2 linked regions of the Homo sapiens genome follow. The protein of the gene in region 1 interacts with the protein of each later gene in a pairwise test. Each region holds a gene or a part of one and is shown on either strand. Other genes may lie near its edges.

Region 1 (3,500 bases):
GTCTCTTCTCTTACCTGCTGAACAACTCAATGTGTCAATTTCCTTTTACTTCATGCAGTCAAATCACGCCCCTACTTTTCCAATCATTCCACTGCCCTTCAGGATTTTACTAGTCAAATTGTTAACTTTACCTGGAAACAGTTGTGGAAATGACTGCCATTATGTTAACAGGGTCATATGAAAAACACTTGTTTATCAACATTTATATGCTTTATTGAAAGTTGACAAGTGCAACAGTTAAATACAGTGACACCTTACAATTGTGTAGAGAACATGCACAGAAACATATGCATATAACTACTATACAGGTGATATGCAGAAACCCCTACTGGGAAATCCATTTCATTAGTTAGAACTGAGCATTTTTCAAAGTATTCAACCAGCTCAATTGAAAGACTTCAGTGAACAAGGATTTACTTCAGCGTATTCAGCAGCTAGATTTCAGATTACACAAAGTGAGTAACTGTGCCAAATTCTTAAAATTTCTTTAGGTGTGGTTTTTGTCATGTAGCAGTTTTTATGTAGATCTATATATAAAAGTCCACACCTCCTCAGACAGCCAATGAAACAACTAAATTTCAATCTGTACAACCTAAATAGTAGTTACAGTCCTCTATTGTACAAAATAGTTACACTACATACACAAATATACAATAAGCAAAACAACCTTCATGGTAAGATAGCCTAGGTCCCAGCTACCTGTCACCATTTTGTCACTCTCATAGTTTTGTGTCATCCATTGTTTGAGAAGAAAGAGGCACAGTACTATTGTTTTTTATGAATTTTGGTGACAGTTGTCAAATTTGTACAGTGAACTCTGTTCCCCCTCATTTTAGTCTTTTTACCCTCCTTTCAAGTTCCTCCTGGGGGGAGGAGAGGAGAGAGGCGAGTCCAGTGAGGAGCTCCATCGCTTCACAACCCCATGTAGGACACTAAGCGCAAGCAGGAGAGAGAACCCTTGGAAGTGAGGGGTAGGGAGCCGGAAGGGATGGAAAGGCACACAGCTCCTGAGCATGAATTAAACCATTTCTCAGATATCTGCCAAGCTGCATGAGGTCCCGGTATATCCATGCTAATTCTCGGATTAACCTTTAATTCACCCAACTAAGAAATTTCTCCAAGCCATAAGCATATGAGTGTTTAATACTGGAAAAGAGATAATGGCATATGTCAGTCTCACGTCTCTTTCGCAGCGAGCAATGAAATGGGTGACTGTGGAGGCAGATTCTCCCTAGCACATCTTCTCCGTCTGTTCAGTTCACACGCAGCAGCCAGTTCTGCGGGGGCATAGGCAGCTATGCGGTTGGTCCTGAGCCCTGCGATGCTGGCTGGGCGGGGGGCTGTGTGGTGCCCTGTGGCTGGGTGGTGGCAGGGGGGGAGCCAGTCTGCAGCTGGGCCTGAAACTGGGCAAGCTGCTCAGGACTGGCCAGTGTCTTCAGCAGATTGTTCTCCTGCTCCAGCTGGGAATTTTTCTCTATTAGTTCTTTGATTTGCTCTTTGAGGACCTCCACTTCTTCTCTGACCGCATACATCAAATGGCTTTTCACTAGATCCTGGAAAGAAGACAGAAAAGGTTTAACTCATTATTTGGTATTTTCTGGACTCTTTTGAGTTTCCAAGACATTATTTTACATGGATCTCCCTAACTATTTACATATTCCACCTTTAAAGTTGGTTCAATGACACTTGGGGAAATCTGAATACAAACATGACTGTACAATACTTGAGTTTAACGTATAAATGATCAAGCTTTGTAAAAGTCTGTGCTTCTCTGCAGACGTTGGCCAGAAACGCCCAAGTAAGGCTTCCTGAGACTGGGCCAGAGCCGGGCGCTGGGTCCCCGACTGAGACCAGCAGCGGGGACGTCCAAGCCACAGCGCGCCCACCGCGTCCCCGCCCCCAGGCCCCGCCCCGCGCTCGCCCGGAGCCGCCTCCTTCAGCACCGGCTGCAGCCAGTTCCTACCGAACATGTTGCCGCATTTTCTTCCCTCCACCCCGCCCCCCTCTTTTCGTGATTAAGCTGACATCACAGAAACCTGGGCAGACGTCGCAGCCAATGGGAGCCCGAGTTATTTATAGCTCCGAATTAAAGGTTCAGAGTTTGCCTAGCAACAGTGGGCAGAGAATCCCGTGAGAAGAGCCACAGGCGCTGCTCCAATAACAAAGAACGGCCAAGGCGGAAATAAAAAATAGGAGAAATCCAGGCGCAGGCTAAGAAAACAAAACTTTTTCTCTGATTCTTCTTCATTGTGAAGGAGCCCGCGCCACCGGGGACCCGTTTGTGCACCGTCTAGAAGACCCTTATCCAGGATCCCGACTTCTGGGGCCCTCCCCACCTCCCGGCTCCCTAGTAAAATATTAGGATTCCTAGTAAAGCCACATCGCTAAAGGTGTGCTCACGACCAGCCGAAGGAGATAGTTGGCCAGCGCTTCCCTAATAAATCCCCAGCAAAAAGGGTCACCGTGAGAAAATCCCGTCGTGTGAAACCAGTCCGGGGAAGAAGACCATTTAATACCCGCAGGGCCCCTTTCTCCCTCCACGGCTGCCGTGGTAGGTGGCTCCACGCTGGCCGAATGGAGACAGCGCCGGCATTTCTACGCGCATCAAGAGCAATCATCATCATCTGAACTTAGGGATGCACTGGTTCCACAAAACATCTTATTTTTGTGCTGTGCCCACATTTAGTATAAATGATTTTTCATCAGTACATACCATAGCTTGCTCGATTTTGTTGTCAATAGCTACCACACTTGCACCAGAGGAGCTGAAAAAGAGGAGGGAAAAAGGTCATCGATAAATGGAATTTATCTTAAGCTTCCAAGATAAAAAGGATCTCCCAATTTTGTGATATTGCTAGCATCATATTTTGAATGTTATTTAACACTATGTAATGTATCACCCTCCAGAAAATGCCAGCCCCTCTCTTACTAACGAATATCCAGGCATCTCCCTATTTTAGTAAGCCACAAAGGACTAAATTACATAATGTGGGGAAAGCCTGTTCTCTGGCCAGACTTGCAAAAATAAGGTTTTTTAACATTTCGAAAAACAACATCCATGTCACCATAATCTCTCAGCAATGGACAAAGGAATTCGCCTGGCTATCTTTCACCTGTATTATTATAAGTATCCCACGAATAAATTTAAAGAAACTATCTTAGCCGACATTTACCTATTATCAAGTCTCACAGAAGCGTTTTCAGTCCCCAGCAAGGATGACAAGAAAGAAATTGAAAAATGTCTCAGTTGGTAAACTCCTAGATCCATCGCCACTGGTCTACACCATTGGGATTTCATGCAATTGCAGCCAAAAACACCCTCGTGGAAAAAAAGAGGGAACACCAGCAGCCTTGTATAAGCTAGATAAAATCTTCTGGCTTTCCGCAGCCCAGGGAGAAACAGAAAACGGCAGCCCTAATTTAAAGAAACCCAGCTTCTAGGGCTTGATGATCCCAGGCAGATGCGGATCCCAGTGCCGTGAAGAGGCGCTTCCCAGATC
Region 2 (3,725 bases), on another chromosome or scaffold:
AATCTATAGTGACATCAGAATAGTGTTTACTGGAGGAGGCAGTATTTTCTGCAAAGGGGCATGATGGAGCATCGTGGAGTGCTGGGCTCTTCCGTATCTTGATCTGAGTCATGGCTACATGCATGCATGCATTTCTGAAGCTTCACTGAGCTGTATATCTAAGACCTGTGCACCTGTGCTGTATATCTAAGACATACAGCACCTGTGCTGTATGTATATCACACCTCAATGGAAACTTGTAAAAGAATTTAATTACTTTTTTTTTTAAAGCTTCTAAGTGAACTTTACCTAAAGGTATATCAGTAACAGCGGCAATACCCTTCATTTCCTCTTCAAAAGGGCCAGGAAAGTTGCCAAGTAGGCCAGGCTGGAAAACAAATATATTAATAAAAGCATTTAACATAATAACAATAAAAAATATATAATATAATATAAACAAATATAATAAAAGCATGCTTTGAAATCTAGTTCTTGGACATATAATTTTTTCTAGATACTGCTATCATAATAAGTGATAGGAATTATTTTTTAAAGCATTTTTACATCATGTAGTTATAAAAAGATTCTATGTAATACTGAATATTGGGCCCCTATACAGAGACCAGATTCTCAGATTGTTTTTCCTGCCTTATTTTTCCATCATTCTCCAGAGAAGGCAGGAACGAGAGTAATTCCACTTGGATGACCTAACCTGACCCACACCACAAAAACATCATAACAAGCACTCCTTATCTCTCTGCACGAATTCACCCTCTAGCCACTGGCATATACCGTTCTTACCATTTCCTTCCCACACTCACAGAGATAAACCTGCACTATTCTATCCATAGCCCTGTGTCATGGTTAATGGCTGATCTTCAGCTAAGATGAAGTAACTGCATTCTTTTAGCAAACCAGAGACATTGAGCAAATTCAGTGGTGGACATCATATATTTATTCTCAATGGCAACTACTAACATCCAGATCACAACTTAAGTTCACGGCCTTTTGCTGAGATAATCTGCTTAAAATTCACGAATCTCACTTTTTTAACCAACTTGGTAATTACATGTAATGTCACCTAAACATATTTTTTTTCTCCCTAGGAACTCAAAGCATTCCCCAAGTGGAATGTTCCAGCCATTTAACAAACAAATGTGACGTAATGGGTATTTATTAAACACTTATTACATCCAAGCACTATGCTTTATACACAGTATGTCATTTAACCCTTACAACCACCATATGAAATATATATTAGTAATTATTATTCTCCCTGATGAGAAAACTGAGGTTTCATAGGTTAAGAAACTTTCCCTAGGACACAAGGCTAGTATGTGACTGATCCAGCCTTAAAACCCAGTATTGTCCGATTCCAAGGCGTGGCACAAAAACTCTCTGCAATGTTGCCCTCCCTGATAACATTCAGAGTAGAGGGGAGATTAAGGCATACGGGGAACGTGGGGGCCTCATCCTCTTTTGCTCCTGCCAGCATTTTTTTGTTTTGAGGAAGTCCGGTAAGTATGAACATAAAGGATAGCCTGAAACAAAAGCTCCGAGAGCATGCACGTGAGGGATAATGGGTTTGGTGCTTGGCAGGTACAAGTGTCATAGGGAGGATGTGGCCACAGCACTCAGCCGCTAGGGCAATGATTCTCGACCACGGGAGATTTGGTAACATCTAAGGACATTTTTGGTTGTCACAACTGAGGGGGTGTTACCAGCATCCAGTGGGTAAGGGCCAGGGACACTGCTAAACATCCTGCAATGCACATGACAGCCCCACAAAAAAGAGACACCCACCCCAGGCCGGGCATCCTGAGCTGCTAAACATCCTGCAATGCACATGACAGCCCCACAAAAAAGAGACACCCACCCCAGGCCGGGCATCCTGGAATGTAGACAAGCCCACGACAAAGAAATATCCAACCCAGGCCGGGCATGGCGGTTCACACCTACGATCCCAACACTTTGGGAGAACACTTTGGGAGGTTGAGGCGGGAAGATCGCCTGAGCCCAGGAGTTGGGAGACCAGCCTGGGTGACACAGCAAGCCTCCGTCTCTACTAAAAATTCAGAAAAGTAGCTGGGTGTGGCGGCACGTGACTGTAGTCCCAGCTACTCAGGAGGCTGAGGCAGAAGGATCCCTTGAGCCTGGGAGATCAAGGCAGCTGTGAGCTATGATCATGCCAGTGCACTCCAGCCTGGGCTACAGAGTGAGATGAGGTCTCAAAAAAAAAAAAAAAAAAAAAGCTGCCCAACCCCAAATGTCATTAATGCCCAAAATCTGCCATCAAGAGCAATGAGGATCCCTTTAACAGTTCTAGGGGCCAGGCCCTAGGTGTTTCATTGGTTCTGCGTCAACAAAAACGGGGCTGAGAAATGGAGTCTTCCTGCATGATGAGGATGAAAATGAAATGGTTTGGTGATTGCACAGAAACACTCAGCCCAAATGAGTTTCAGGGTCAGAGCTACTGAGGAACTCTACAGAATAAGGGGCCAGGCTGAGTATGTCATTTGCTCATATCTACAAAAAAAAAATCTCTGGATGTCCCTGAGACACTTAAGAAAAAAAACCAAGTCTTCAATAGTGAACTCACTACATAAAGGGAAGGAAATACCACACTCCCAGATGAAATATGGTTATTTGCCCAATGTCGTAATGTAGTCCCATCCCCTTTTACGAAACCATAATTTGCTATGCTGTAACCCTAATATTACCAATTCCCCAAATTTAAGTCCCTCTGAAGTTCTGACAGTGAGCTAGATTCATGCAGATTTGCCCAAGTCCCTGCGAAGAGGTTGCTGAATTATGCCTTTAAATAAATAACAGCGCATTTTCTATGTGCTTAACATTTATTGTGAGAAATAATATCTCTTACCAATTTTTCATCCACCACCTGCATAATTTTTCCACTTGGCACGAATGTATTTATCATATTCTTCAGAGAATTCACTATAACCTTTAGCTGAAAAATAAATAAAATGCTTACTAAAAGACATAATGAAATGCTGTCAAGATTACCTTTTGGCTTACCCATATGTAGCTAAAAGAGAGTGCTATTTGACAATTTATATATATATTTTTTAAAACAGCATCTCGCTCTGTCACCCAGGCTGGAGTGCAGTAGCACCATCTCGGCTCACTGCAATCTCTGCCTCCCAGGTTCAAGCGATTCTCCTGCCTCAGCCTCCCAAGTAGCTGAGATTACAAGTGTGCATCACCATTCCCAGCTAATTTTTGTATTTTTTTTTTTAAGACGGAGTTTTGCTCTTGTCGCCCAGGCCGGAGTGCAATGGCACGATCTCTGCTCACCGCAACCTCTGCCTCCCGGGTTCAAGCGATTCTCTTGCCTCAGCCTCCCAAGTAGCTGGGACTACAGGCATGCACCACCATGCCTGGCTAATTTTTGTATTTTTAGTAGAGACGGGGTTTCACCATCTTGGCCAGGCTGGTCTCGAACTCCTGACCTCGTGATCCACCCGCCTCGGCCTCCCAAAGTGCTGGGATTACAGGCATGAGCCACCGCGCCTGGCCTAATTTTTGTATTTTTAATAGAGACAGGGTTTCACCATGTTGGCCAGGCTGGTCTTGAACTTCTGATCTCAGGTGATCCGCCTGCCTCAGCCTCCCAAAGTACTGGGATTGATTACAGGCATGAGCCACCGTGCCTGGCCTCGATTAATACATTAATACAGTAAGTCTAATTTTATCTTTAAAGTGAATTTGATTCTTAATTATTTACA

The links.
Region 2: the proteins of TSC22D1 (region 1) and ASAH1 interact in a two-hybrid assay, tested with the Homo sapiens proteins (one large-scale study listed by BioGRID and IntAct).

Annotation. Positions count from the first base shown.
Region 1 is NC_000013.11:44,433,331-44,436,830, forward strand, and holds part of TSC22D1 (TSC22 domain family protein 1), read right to left. Parts: exon of another isoform or gene 3,299-3,500; coding exon of another isoform or gene 3,174-3,298; intron 2,766-3,173; coding exon 2,714-2,765; intron 1,554-2,713; coding exon 1,296-1,553; 3' UTR 685-1,295; coding exon of another isoform or gene 635-684; 3' UTR 1-634. UniProt on the Homo sapiens protein: Transcriptional repressor. Acts on the C-type natriuretic peptide (CNP) promoter. Acts to promote CASP3-mediated apoptosis.
Region 2 is NC_000008.11:18,066,932-18,070,656, forward strand, and holds part of ASAH1 (acid ceramidase isoform a preproprotein), read right to left. Parts: intron 2,948-3,725; coding exon 2,861-2,947; intron 368-2,860; coding exon 289-367; intron 1-288. UniProt on the Homo sapiens protein: Lysosomal ceramidase that hydrolyzes sphingolipid ceramides into sphingosine and free fatty acids at acidic pH.